Linked DNA regions of Homo sapiens. The protein of the gene in region 2 purifies or fractionates together with the protein of the main gene of each other region. This does not show direct contact. Each region holds a gene or a part of one and is shown on either strand. Other genes may lie near its edges.

Region 1 (3,507 bases), on a different chromosome or scaffold from region 2:
TGTTTGAACCCCGAGGTGGAGGTTGCAGTGAGCCAAGATTGCGCCACTGCACTCCAGCCTGGGTGACAGGGCGAGACTCCGTCTCAAAAAAAAAAAAAAAAAAGAGGTCGTGAAGCTGAATGATGCCAGTTTGTTTCTTTACAAAGGGACCAGGCCTTTCCAGTAATTAGACTGCTCAAGTCTGCTATCAAGGGAACTATCAGCTTGCTCAGTGAGTCTCTATCCCTATTTGATACCCTAATTGAATAAATGCCATATTTATACTCATGCGTCTTGTACCCTGTGAGATGGGTACTGTTGATTACCCTCGTTGATGGATGAGGGACAGGCATGGAGAGGTGAAATAAGCCTGTTCAACATCACCCAGCTGATGAGAAGCAGTGGATCTAGGAATGGAGCCCGAGCAGTCTCGCTCTCAGGGCCCTGTGTGGAGTCACTGTGCTGTCCCAGCTCTGGAGACGCAGAATTCCACATGAGGAATGTGGAATTCAGCATGGGGATGACGCTGCTTCACCCAGACTTGGAGGAGCGTGGTGAATTGCCCGTGCCCATGCTCTGATGTGCCTCTCTGGCCGCTGCGTTCCTCCTTTCTCCCTGCCCTGGGTCAGTGCCTGTAAACACTGCCCTAAATCAGCAGGGCCCCCGTCACTTCTGCTTTATGCACCTTTTTCCTCAGACACATTAATACAGGGGAGTTTTGTTTCCAAGGGACCACATCCAGATGGAGGGGCTGTTTTTGGTGATCTGCACTGCCAAATGCCCGAGTGTCCCTGACAGTCGGAGCTGATGAGGCCAAGGCTGTGTGTGGTTCCTCTGGATGGCCAGAAGAGGAACCAAAACACTGAATTCTGGGCCTTCTTAAGAGTGGTGATCAGCACATTGTGATAGAAGCATATCTGGGAATGAACTTGGCCTCAAGCTTTTGGCCTTTTAATTTTTTTTTTTGTAAGCAAAAGCAGCTTTATTAAGAAAACAAAGGAATAAAAGAATGGCTACTCCACAGGCAGAGCAGCTCTTTTACATTTTTTATAGAGATGAGGTCTCACTGTGTTGCCCAGGTTGGTCTTGAACTCCTGGCCTCAAGCAGTCCTCTCACCTCAGCCTCCCAAAGTGCTGGGATGGCAGATGTGATCCACTATGCCTGGCCAAGCTTTTGGCCTTCTGACCAGCCTCATATTGTAGAATTTTTAGAAAGTCTAAGTGGTGTGGGTGAGCCTGTGGCTCCTGGGTAATTTTCCAGGTCAGGGCTGTATGGAAGCTTCCTGCCAAGAGCTTCTAGCACTGTGGGGAGTGGCTTCTGTGAGTGCGCGTTCAGGCTGTGTGTTTTTCTCTCCCCCTGCCCCTTCCCTATGGGATGTCACTGGCAGCCGGCAGCCTTTTTGGCTCCAGACCTCTAATAGAATTAGAGAGCTGGGAGGCATCGAGGGTTCATGCTCTCAGCAAGTTGTCAACCTCTTGGGGCTTCTTCAGAACATTGCAGGTCTGGCTTCTCAGATTCTTTTCTGTCTCTTCGTTTAGGCTGGGCTAAGCAGTTCCAAGCTTTCCATGTCCAAGGCCCTCCCTCTCACCAAAGTGGTTCAGAATGATGCATACACAGCTCCTGCTCTCCCTTCCTCTATTCGAACAAAAGCCTTGACCAACATGTCCCGGACACTGGTGAACAAGGAAGAACCCCCCAAAGAGCTGCCAGCTGCTGAGGTGAGGTGATGGTGGTGACTGCAGCAGTTGGGGTCAGGAGGGCTGTATGCTTATATGTACCTCATTGTGTTCCCCACAACGCCTTTGTGAGGTGGGCATTGCCACCCCCATTCTACAGATGAGCAAACCAAGACCTAGGGACTCTTACCCTCAAAGACCTTGCAGGCTAGTGGGGACGGCAGACCTGCTGAGAGATTGCGGTATCTGGTGATATGTTAGACTCTCTCAGAAGAAAGCTATTAGGAGGGCTGAGGACAGATTATCTCATTCCAGTTGGGAAGTCTGGGAAAAAGGGCTCTTTTAGCTGAGTGGGTCTGGAAGCATGAGTAGCCTTCCAGGTAGAGGCTCAGGGCCTGAGAGGCTTGCGTATTTGGGAGATGGGAGAGGGTCCATGCTTTTAGCATAGAGTGATGGGGGGTGTAGTGGACACTGAAGTTCAGGGGGCCCATTTGTGGTAACTCTCCATGGAGCTTTCCTCTGGGCCTTCCTAGTCACGTGCCTGGAGGAATTTCTGTTGTGGGAATGCTTATCAGCCATCTGGCTTCTGGTAATGCTCTTGTCTGTGTGGCAGCCTGTTCTCAGCCCATTGGAAGGCACCAAGATGACTGTGAATAATCTGCACCCTCGAGTCACTGAGGAGGACATTGTTGTAAGTACTGTGACCTACCAAACATTTAAATCTCAAACTGCCTCTGTGGCAAAGGTCTCTTAAGACCCACCCTCAGGTTTGATGACTGCTAGGACTCACCAGACTCAGCATATAGTCACGCTCAGGGCTGAGACTAATGACAGCAAAAGGATGCAGAGCAAATGGCTCATGGGGTGAAGTCGGGGGGAAACGAGGCACAAGCCTCCAGAGGCCCCTCCCAGCAGAGTCGCACAGGATGCTGGGTGCAACTCGCAGCAAGTTGTGACAATACATGTGACACCAGGGAAGCTCATTAAAGACTCAGTACCCAAAGGTTTTACTGGGGGCTGGTCACTTCGGCATTCTCTGTGTAGCATGTACTAAAATTCCAGACTCCCAGAGGGAAAGCAGCTGTTGAGCAGAAACCATGTTGTTTGCACAGTCCAGGCACAGTGAACTGTGGGGTGGCAGGAGCCCTCCTGAGATCCGAGTTCTCAGATGCCAGCCAAGGGCCACCCCTGGAATCGGACCTTTCAAACAATAGCAGTCAGCCCAGCTGCTTCACTCTTCTGCACAGCTTCTAGCCAAGGCCAGGTGCCTGGCCTGAATCTCAGAGTCAGGGGATATCTATGCTATAATGGGTCCTAAATGGGATCCTTTAGTCCCACTGGGCAGTATCCAATAGTTGTGTTTTCCTGTGTCCTTTGGAGGTATTACAAGATGATTCCAAAGTGAAAGAAGTGAGATGGATTGGTGGTATCCACCTTCCTGGTCCATCCCGTCCCACCCATGGCAGTCATGGGCAAAACCTGTCAAATGTCTGTGAGCGGGGTTCTGGATGCAGCTAGGACTTCTTTTCAACATCATTTTCATTCAGGCACCCAAAAGAGCCATTAGTTTAGAAATCCAGGCATCCTTTGAACTGTCAGATCACAAAATGAATACGTTTGGAGAATCCAGCCTCTCCCTGCAGTTAAGTCCCAGACTAACAGACTGCACTGGTCACTACATTTGTTAAATCTTTTTGTTTTGTTTTGTTTTGTTTTTGAGATGGAGTCTCACTCTGTCACCCAAGCTAGAGTGTAATGGTGTGATCTCGGTTCACTGCAACCTCTGCCTCCCAGGCTCTAGCAATTCTCCTGCCTCAGCCTCCCGAGTAGCTGGGATTAGAGGCGCCTGCC
Region 2 (3,500 bases):
AAGGTGCGTGGGGCATGGGGACCGGCAGCCAGGCCTGAAGAGTGGGGACAGAGAGCCGGCGGCCACATGGGTGGTGACTGGGGACTGGGTGTGATGGGGGGCAGTGGGATGTCCTCTTTCTTTCACTTCTTCCCCTCAATGGTTCCACGATCATCTATGGGGCAGGACTGACAAGGTGTCGGGGCAGGGAGACAAACCACATGTGAGCAAATAACTCAGTGGGCAAGGTCATCTCAAGTCATTGGACATGCTACAAAAATAAACATTCAACATGGTAGCTGAATAAGGAGTGTGTAGGGCGGGGAGCCTCACTGAGAAGGAAACACTTTATTAGAGCGGAAATCTGAATGACATGAAGAAGGTGGCTGTGCAAAGATCTGCTTCAGCAGGGGGACAGTGAGTACCAAGTGGTGAGGTGGGGACAGGCTCTGAATGTTCTAGGTATGGAAAGAGGACGGAAGCTCAGCCTCAGACATGGATTTCCCACTGGGGGCCTGCCTAAGGCCAAGTGCTGGGCATGTGTAGGAGGGATGCTGAGCCAAGAGGCAGGGAGGAGATGGTGGGTGCGTGTGATGGCTCTCGCGGTGGCCAGGTAACAGTGGAGGTGGAGTCTCACCCTGCTGGGATGGCAGGCAGGATTCTGGTTTCTGGGAGGACTGGTGAGAGCAAGCAGGACCCCAGCCTGAGGACCTGGGCTTGAGACAGCAATCAGTCCCTGTAACAAGGGCCAGGGTCAGAGTGAAGCAGCTAGCCCAATGCCACTGGGATCTGAAGCCACTAAACCTGCCCAGGGGGTCAAAGGACCCCAGCTGTGTGGGCAGAGGAGGCCATTAGGGCTCTTTCCTGGCATTTCATCCTGCAGAGCCCTGGGCTGGCCAAGAGCCAAAGGTCCTGGGCCCTAGTTCTGCCTTGACACCCCCTCAGGGACCTTGGGTGAGTCCTTTCATGTCCCTGGGCCTTAGGAATCTGGATTAGATTATCTTTCAACAGCAGCAATGGGCATAAATATGAATTCAAGGCCTACTGTGCATCAGGCATCTTGCTGGCTGCTGGAATATTCCTGTCACGGATTTGACATTCGACTAGAGTCTAACTATTAAATAGAAAGTAAATACAAATGTGATGAGCAAGAAACCAAGCTGGGGAGTGGCGGGCATGGAGGTGCTGGGGAGGCTAATTCATATCAGCTGGTCACAGAAGCCTTGCTGAGGAATTTTTGAGCTAAAGATCTGAAGGATGAGAACAGCCTCCCATTTGAAGTGTGGGAGGAAAGGCATTCCAGGAGGGAAAGGTGGGTGCAAAGGCCCTGTGGTAGGAAAGAGGTCCAGCGGGCTGCAGTGCAGTGAACAAGGGGTGGGGTTATCAGGGCGGTCAGAAACAGGTTGGGCTGTGGAAGGACTTTGACTTCTTTTCTGAGAGTAATGGGAAGCCCCAAATGTTTACAGAGGAGAGAGGCATGGTCCCATTTATATTTGTAAGAGGTCACTTTAGTGAAGAATCTAGGTGTGGGGGGCTTGGAGGGAGGCAGGGAGGTCTCTGAGGAGGCTGGTGCAGAAGTCCAGAGTGGAGAATGGTGACGGGACTGGGGAGGGGTAGAGGTGATGGAGAAAGTAGACTTTCCAAGGTCTCTTTAGGACAGGCCTTGCAGTGGGGGGACTGGGAGCATCAAGGCTGCCTCCCAGGATTTGGGATGGGGCAGTGATGGGGACCCTGGCCTGTGTGTCCTGGCCCATGGCAGGGAGGAGAGCAATATCTCTATCATGTTCAGGGAGCCTGGGTGTTCAGGGGTCTCTCCCCCGGTCTCAGTCATCCCAGGGCCCCCAGCCTTGACACTGGTGCCTGCAGAGCTGGTGCGGATTCGAGGGGAGGCTGCCCAGATCGTGTGCTCAGCCAGCAGCGTTGATGTTAACTTTGATGTCTTCCTCCAACACAACAACACCAAGGTCAGTCCCTGCAGATCACAAGGTGAAGTCTGGCCATCCTCCCAGCACACCAGGTTTCCCATGGTGGAGTCCTGGGCCCCCAACTCCAAACTGGCTGTCTTAGCTGAAGGCACAGCTCAGACTCCAGAGAGGGGTGCAGACTCACCCGAGATCTCACTCCCAGTCAGTAGCTGACACAGAATCAGGACTCATGCTTGTGCCGCTGAACTTTGTGGGGGTGGGTGGGGGGAGGTGGTTCTCTGTCACCTTGACACATGGCCTTTGCCCCAGCCTTTAGACAAAAGCCAGAGGTGAGCTCACTTCTGATTTAGCAAGGGTTTCCTAGGCCACCATTGAAGCCCAGGAATATAACAGCTATTTCAGAAAGACATTGGGAGAGAGGGAGGAGGAGGGAGGATTCCAGGAGGGACTCACGTTGGGCTGCCTCTAAGAGCCCCCTCCCTTCCCACTGCACCTGCCGTGTTCCAGACACAGCCCTAAGCCACTTGCATGCATATCTCATTTACTCCTCACTACAGTCTTGGGGCAGGGAGCCAGTATTAGCCCCATTTTACAAGTGAAGCAACAGGCTCAGAGGAAAGGCAGATAGTAATCCTTAAAGGCTGAGGATTGGAACCCAGATCTTTCTAATCCCTAAACTACCTTGGTATAACATCTCCATTCCTTCTGGCTGCAGCTCGCAATCCCTCAACAATCTGACTTTCATAATAACCGTTACCAAAAAGTCCTGACCCTCAACCTCGATCAAGTAGATTTCCAACATGCCGGCAACTACTCCTGCGTGGCCAGCAACGTGCAGGGCAAGCACTCCACCTCCATGTTCTTCCGGGTGGTAGGTAAGCATCAGGGTGGTGGTGGACAGTCGGTAGGGATCCTGCAGGAGTGTGAGCAGAAGGGTTTTGAGGAGGAAGCTGATGTCAGGGAAGGAGACCTGCTGAGGATATCTCTGCTGGAGTTTGTTTATCCAAGGCCTGGCTAAGGAGCCACTCTCCAGGAGCTTTCCCTTACCCTCTCCTGGGATCTCTCTCCCATCTTGGAGCTCTTACAGTGCATGGCTGCATTGGGTGCACCTTAGTGCCATTTTTTGTTTATTTGGGGATTGGGGTCCAGTAGCTCCCTACTGGACTTCATTTGTTCATTCTTTCATGCATTCCTTTATGGAAACATGAAAAGACAATGATCACCCAGTGATTATGGGGGAAGCACAAGGTGTCCTGGGAACACTGAAGAGTCCCCCCAACCCAGGCTTCGAGAAGGTGGCCTCTAAACTGGGATGGGAAGAATGAAGGTGAGTTGGCCGGGCAGAAGGGTGGGAAAGGAAGGGGAACAGCGCTTCTGGCAGAGGGAGGAACATATGCAAGGCTCAAAGGCAAAGAGAACATAGATCATTTGGAACACTGAAAGAACTTGACAACAGCTGGGATGTGGAGTGGTGTGAGGAGTGGCCACAGGGGAGCAGAGGAGGTGGCAGAAGCCGGAGGTAAAGGTGTCTTAAAGTGAGAAAGAATAACTGCATCTTAACCTATTGGGAGGTCATTGTAAAGAGGAGAGTGATGG
Region 3 (3,507 bases), on a different chromosome or scaffold from region 2:
AGATTACTTTTTTTTACTGTATTGGGCTACTTTTTATTAGTTGTCATTCTAAATATTTAGTAGCCAAGATAGAAATAATCATTTTGTAGTTACATTTAAGGAGAATTTTGTCAGCAATCATTGTGCTTTTTAGAACACTGAAAAAAATTTCTAGGTTGCTTTAATTTTCAAAATTGTGTAATTTTGTAATTCTAATCTATTTGGGGAATTAGTGAATACCTTCTCAGTGAGACTTGTAAAAATCTACTTTTACACTTTCCCTTACTTACATGAGCTCTAGGTTTTCTGTCATCTATGTACTAATAATGTCTTTTTCTTTATTCCAGTGAATCTGCATGTCGGTTTTATAGTCAGCAAATGAAGGGGAAACAACTAGCAATCAAGAAGATGAACGAGATTCAGAAGAATATTGATGGTTGGGAGGGAAAAGACATTGGACAGTGTTGTAATGAATTTATAATGGAAGGAACTCTTACACGTGTAGGAGCCAAACATGAGAGACACATATTTCTCTTTGATGGCTTAATGATTTGCTGTAAATCAAATCATGGGCAGCCAAGACTTCCTGGTGCTAGCAATGCAGAATATCGTCTTAAAGAAAAGTTTTTTATGCGAAAGGTACAAATTAATGATAAAGATGACACCAATGAATACAAGCATGCTTTTGAAATAATTTTAAAAGATGAAAATAGTGTTATATTTTCTGCCAAGTCAGCTGAAGAGAAAAACAATTGGATGGCAGCATTGATATCTTTACAGTACCGGAGTACACTGGAAAGGATGCTTGATGTAACAATGCTACAGGAAGAGAAAGAGGAGCAGATGAGGCTGCCTAGTGCTGATGTTTATAGATTTGCAGAGCCTGACTCTGAAGAGAATATTATATTTGAAGAGAACATGCAGCCCAAGGCTGGAATTCCAATTATCAAAGCAGGAACTGTTATTAAACTTATAGAGAGGCTTACGTACCATATGTACGCAGGTAAGAATTATGCAGTTGCCTGTCACTTTTGTTTTCCTGCTTCAAACTGATTTTCTTTCCTGCATGGGTTTATTGTGCCTAAAATAGAAAAGAAACTAACAACCAAAGACCTCTTTTCTTTGACTAAAAATACCCCACTTTATATTTCTTTGGAATGTTTTACTTTTTCTACTACACTTAAATACTTTTTTTTAACCTTACCATCAGTTATAGATGAGAAAATGAGGTCACTTGGCTAAATTTATCCAGTTAGAAAGTGACAGAAACAAGACTAAAGTTAGTAGTAAATCATCATTATTGGGATCTAAAAAGTTTTTTACTCCTTTATCTTTTTTTTCTTTCTTCTTTTTCCATTTCTGAGATTATAAATAAAAATTTTAATATAACAAAATTGTGCTGGTAGTACAAATATACACGGCATTGCTTTCTCTCAGTTTCCACTCCTAAACCTGATTATTTAATAATAAATGTTGCAATCCTGGAAGCCAAGGATTCCAGTTTTATTATAATTTTTCACCTAGAAATGTCTATAGTCAGTGTATTTATTTTACTGACCCAAAAATTTAAAAAATCATAGGAAATGTAAATAGGCTGCCTAGATTTTACATGAAAAACAAATAGGTTATTGTCATTTTTTTCCATATAAAGCTGTTTTTTGAGAGGTACAATTTTTCGGTAGTATGACCTGCCGATTTAGTTGTGCTTCACCAACCTTTTCTATGTTCTTTATGATCTAGACTACAACTATAAAAATGTTTTTTATTCAGTTACCCAAAATTTGTGATTGCAAAATACTTCTTTTCTGCTTAAGAGATTTTTAAGGCTATAAAAGTTCAAATTGCCCTTCTTGCCACATTTTCCTGGTTTTTAAGTCCCCTTAGAGGACTCATAGAATTTTTATAACATGAGCATTCTAAACTTTATCATTTCATCCTAAGTACTTTTGTTTGGGGTTCCTAGACTCATTTGGAGTAAAATTAATCTTTAGATTTTTCTCTGTGTTTGTAAGAAAGAAGTTTTAATTTTTTTTTTTTTTTTTTTTTTCCTGTAGAGCATTGTAAGAAGACTTACTACTAGTGTTTACTGTCACAAGTCAGTGATACTTGGGCAGGAAAACATTTTCAAATTACAAAATTTTTAATTGTTTCTGTAAGACTTGATTGAGTGATAGAAGTTTTCTCTAAATTGCTATATTTCACAAAGTTAATTTATGATTATTAATAAGCAGCTGAAGAATGGTTACAACTATTGTCTGGGGAACTGTCCCTTTTATTTATTTTTTTAAATGAGGACACTTTAAAGCAAAATTAACTGGAACAAGCTGATACTTGTTTTGTAGTCCTGAAAGTCTTCTTTCCTTAATGTGTACAATGTTAGGTAAAGTCCGTGGACATGGTACTTTTGTAATGATGTTTTATTAGTTATTTCTGTCTGATACTTCTTTTCTATATCAATTTTTAGCTTTGGTATAGAGTAATATTTTGAGTGCTTTTACTTATAATGAATATAAAACACTTAAATTTCAAGATTTATAGAACTTTGCCAAAGTTAAGTGTATTGAAAATTTAAGTTGATGAGATTATTTTACTTAAAAAAAATGTTTTTAAAAAATTCCTTCCAATAATTTTTTGAGAAATAAAAGGCCAGTGTTGTGGCTAAGTTTTTTGATATTTTTCTTTTCTGTCTTCTTTTGAAGCTTAACTGAATATTTTAATTTATGTCATAAATATATTACTGGTGAAACTGGAGTCTACAAGCAGCTTTCGTGAGTTGTGGTTTACAGTACACACACATTAGTGTTAACTGTTAGCTTATTTGGGCTATTCTGTAAGGTCTGTTACTGAAGTTATTACTGGCAACATAGAATGGTTTTTAATAGACCATCTGTGAACTTGTAAAACTGAAATGGACTTTTAAGGCCTCACTACAATGGTAACAGATCAAGTTACCATTTGTTTTTAAGAACTACTGGTCTGCTCTTCTCCTCTCATCTTTCTTCAGCCTCCCCAAAGAGAAAAGGGATTTGTGATTTGGTTAGTAGGTATGTTTATTGGAGAACATGCAGTACAGGTTGTGGCTTACACTGAAACAAAGCTAACATTTAACTTACACATTTTTATTTTATTATATAGAATTGTAATAAAAGACATTGGATATAATACATGAGAAAATTTAATGAATACTATAAGACACGACTTACAGACATCTTTTAGATTATTATAGTTTGGTTAGACATTGTCATAAAAACAGAAGAGAAACTGGTTTAACCTTACTTTATTCAGACTTCACTGTGGTGTCAGCCAACTTTATCCCTCAAATATTTTAACAGTAATGTACAAAATGGAGCTATAGATCTCTAATGCTAGAAGAGATGCCCAAGCCTTCACTTTGTAGACAAATCCCAAGGCCCCTGAAGATTATATGATTTCCCAGAAGTTCTATTACGAGTTAATTCCAGAACAAGTCAAGAATTAGGTTTCTTGACTCTAAATAGAGTATATTTTCTACCATGTTACATTGACTCA
Region 4 (3,507 bases), on a different chromosome or scaffold from region 2:
CTTGGGCTTATGTATCAAAAGACTTTTAAGTTTTTGTGGCACATGAATATTTGTATCTAAAATAGTTTATCCTTAAGAGGGTTCTTAAAAATAACTCAGTATTATTTTTTCTGATTACTTTTTTTGGCTTGAAAAATATTAAAAACATTAGGTTGTGCTGCGAGTTTCATAAAGATAACTACAACACTTCTAATACAAACATTTTTTTAGTTTCAGTACAAAACGGTTCGATTCATCAAAAAGATGCTGTAAATGATGATGATTTTGAGCCATACTTAAGTAGCCAGACAAATCAGGTAAGTCTTCTGACAGTTTCAGATTTTAGGAAATTAACCTTTTATTAGTATTAGTTGATTTTTCAAATAGATTATTTAATGAGATTAACCATAACATGGATTCATTCATCTAGTGTACCTATATAGTAAGTGAGTAGTGAGTAGCAGTTGCAGATTTATGGCACAGGAGAGTTCTTCTTCAGAAAGTATAGGCACCAGAAACTAGGTTATGAAATATAGAATAAAGATTTGAAGGTGACCATTATTTGTATATATTATGGTTAGGTTTTTTGTGTGTGTGTATTGAAGGAACTTAATCTTTTAATGTCACTGCTATATCTTCATAGCTTAAGCTAATTATAAAAGGCTTAATTAGCTAGAAATTTGGGTATTTGGAGGAGGGATTAGTTACCTGAAATTGCCTGCAATTTTGGGTCAAATGTAGTGTTTTCTTTTTTTAAGACATTGCAGATTGAATTCATTGATAACTATTGAAAATTTTAACATACCTTGGTAATGTCGGTGATAGAATTAAGGAGTTTATAAACATACTTGCTTTATAAACACAGTTACTTCTGTATTGTAGACATGGACAGTTTTATCAAATCAAGTAATTGGTAACTGGTGGCTTTGAGTATTTGTGTACAAGCGTAATTCCAATTTAAACATTGAAGAACAATGCTATTAGGTATCTGTATGCCATTTCTGCATCCATTTCTGTCTGTTACTAAAAATAAGCCACTGATAGAAATAAATGAAAAAATACATTTTCAGTATTCACCAGTTTTTTTAGAGAGAACATTGTGGAATGAAACTGTTTGTTTTGCTTTAAAAAAGCAAAAAATGCTCAAGAACTTTGGGTCTTAAAATTAGTTCTGTAGTTCTTATTTATTTATTTATTTTTGAGACGGAGTCTCGCTCTGTCGCCCAGGCTGGAGTGCAGTGGTGCGATCTCAGCTCACTGCAAGCTCTGCCTCCCGGGTTCACGCCATTCTCCTGCCTCAGCCCGGAGTAGCTGGGACTACAGGCGCCCGCCACCATGCCCGGGTAATTTTTTTGTATTTTTAGTAGAGACAGGGTTTCACCATGTTAGCCAGGATGGTCTCGATCTCCTGACCTCATGATCCGCCCGCCTCGGCCTCCCAAAGTGCTGGGATTACAGGTGTGAGCCACTGGGCCCAGCCCACCTCTGTAGTTCTTTGGAATAATTTTATGATTAATTTGATTAGAAACTCAGTTCTTTGGAATAATTTTATGATTAATTTGATTAGAAACTCAGTTTTTTTTTTTTCTTTAATTTTTGAGACAGTCTTGTTTTGTTGCCCAGGCTGGAGTGCAGTGGCGCAATCTTGGCTCACTCCAACCTCTGCCTCCCAGGCTCAAGTGATTCTTCTGCCTCAACCTCCTGAATAGCTGGGATTACAGGCACATGCCACCACGCCTGGCTACTTTTTGTATTTTTTAGTAGAGGTAGAGTTTCACCATGTTGGCCAGGCTGGTCTTGAACTCCTGACCTCAAGTAATCTGCCTGCCTCAGCCTCCCAAAGTGCTGGGATTACAAGCATGAGCCACCGTGCCCAGCCTAAAATTCAGATTTTAATTGGCACGTTAAAGATGCCAGTTAGTTTGTGTGTGTAAATTTGAAGAGTAAATTGGAAAACTGAATGAAGTTTGACTTGTCTGCTTGCATATATGGAGAAAATGAAAAACGTACTCTAAAATTTTAACCTAGATTTTTGAAACTCTGAAAGAACAAGGAACCAAATCTTACTACAGAACTGAACAGTTTGTACAGTAGAGTTATAGGGAAAATTTGAACAAAAAGTAGTTCCCAATTTGTGGGATGCAGGATTATTTTTAGGATTATGGAGAGTGGTGGTTGTGTTCAACCTCATCTACCTCTTGGTTACTTCCCCTTAACCACCCCTTCCTATCTACTGAGCAACATTCCTAGCATACATGGGAGGAGAAGAAATAAATGGGAAAGAAAAAAACTTTACGATCTCAGCAAAATTACTTTTCCACGTAAAGATTATGAAAGTAGATCATTTGTTGTGAAATGTAGTGCAAGTTTTAAAATAAGCGTGATTTTACTATATTCTGGCTCACATAGTAATCTCAGTTAACGCTTATGGCAGTATGGCAGTATTTTCCAACTTTGCTGAGAAATCTTAATATTAGGAGGTGTAATAAATATTCCTTCAAAAAGATGTCCATGTTTAGATAGATTTGAGAAATTTTGGAGGCTAAACAGTTGAACTGTTTTTTTTGCTACTTGATTTCATAGTTTATAAATTATAATTGAAAATGAAGTTCTTAAGATGAAGATATAGTATAAAAAATCCTGACTTGTTCAAACTCTTATTTTTTTTTTTTTTTTGAAACGGAGTCTCGCTCTGTTGCCTAGGCTGGAGTGCAGTGGCATAATCTTGGCTCACTGCAACCTCTGTCGCCCAGGTTCAAGAAATTTTCCTGCCTCAGCCTCCCAAGTAGCTGGGATTACAGACACATGCTACCACGCCTGGCTAATTTTTATATTTTTAGGAGAGGTGAGGTTTCACCATATTGGCAAGGCTGGTCTTGAACTCCTGACGTCAAGTGATCCACCTGCCTCGGCCTCCCAAAGTGCTGGGATTACAGGCATGGAACACCGCACTCAGCCATTCAAACTCTTTTTTAAGGAATTTTAGTGGACTGTAAAAGACAGTTTTGGAATTGCTACCTGAGTAATCTTCTTGCATGTTTTGCTTGATAACAGATATTTTACAATTCTTTATTATTTGTCACAAGGACATAGAAGGGTTTCTACTGGAGGAAAAATTTTTGTCAGGAGGATTTCTGGTATTCCATAGAGGCACCTTAGTGTCTTCCTAGGGAAAACCAGCGGAGGGTGCCTGAATCCCACCAGTGTAGCAACTAGCACTGTGGTTTGCGTTTTATCTGTTCTATATATTGGAATTGTGCATAAGACTTTACTTGTAAAAAAAAAAATAGTTTTAAAAAGTGTTTGGGAAACCATTACTTTTTAAAAGATGTAAAGGCATTTACCTTAGTGAACCCAAATGAATTTTTTCAGCTGCATCATTGCAGGTTATGTTGGAGCAAAACATTTGTAAAATAGATTTGTTTTAACTCATGATATTTGGAATCAACATATTTGTATCCTGTTTGAAGAGAAGTTGTAAAGTTTGATTCCAGTAAGGCCTGTTCTACCTCTCCTTTGTGGTACTAA

The links.
Region 1: the proteins of CSF1R (region 2) and POLDIP3 purify together in Homo sapiens (affinity purification with mass spectrometry; one large-scale study listed by BioGRID and IntAct). This does not show direct contact.
Region 3: the proteins of CSF1R (region 2) and SOS1 purify together in Homo sapiens (affinity purification with western blotting; one study listed by BioGRID). This does not show direct contact.
Region 4: the proteins of CSF1R (region 2) and YTHDF3 purify together in Homo sapiens (affinity purification with mass spectrometry; one large-scale study listed by BioGRID and IntAct). This does not show direct contact.

What each region holds. Positions count from the first base shown.
Region 1 is NC_000022.11:42,594,377-42,597,883, reverse strand, and holds part of POLDIP3 (polymerase delta-interacting protein 3), read left to right. Parts: intron 1-1,518; coding exon 1,519-1,698; intron 1,699-2,269; coding exon 2,270-2,347; intron 2,348-3,507. UniProt on the Homo sapiens protein: Is involved in regulation of translation. Is preferentially associated with CBC-bound spliced mRNA-protein complexes during the pioneer round of mRNA translation. Contributes to enhanced translational efficiency of spliced over nonspliced mRNAs.
Region 2 is NC_000005.10:150,076,555-150,080,054, reverse strand, and holds part of CSF1R (macrophage colony-stimulating factor 1 receptor isoform a precursor), read left to right. Parts: coding exon 1-3; intron 4-1,806; coding exon 1,807-1,943; intron 1,944-2,619; coding exon 2,620-2,779; intron 2,780-3,500. UniProt on the Homo sapiens protein: Tyrosine-protein kinase that acts as a cell-surface receptor for CSF1 and IL34 and plays an essential role in the regulation of survival, proliferation and differentiation of hematopoietic precursor cells, especially mononuclear phagocytes, such as macrophages and monocytes.
Region 3 is NC_000002.12:39,020,045-39,023,551, reverse strand, and holds part of SOS1 (son of sevenless homolog 1), read left to right. Parts: intron 1-326; coding exon 327-982; intron 983-3,507.
Region 4 is NC_000008.11:63,175,121-63,178,627, forward strand, and holds part of YTHDF3 (YTH domain-containing family protein 3), read left to right. Parts: intron 1-210; coding exon 211-296; intron 297-3,507. UniProt on the Homo sapiens protein: Specifically recognizes and binds N6-methyladenosine (m6A)-containing RNAs, and regulates their stability. M6A is a modification present at internal sites of mRNAs and some non-coding RNAs and plays a role in mRNA stability and processing.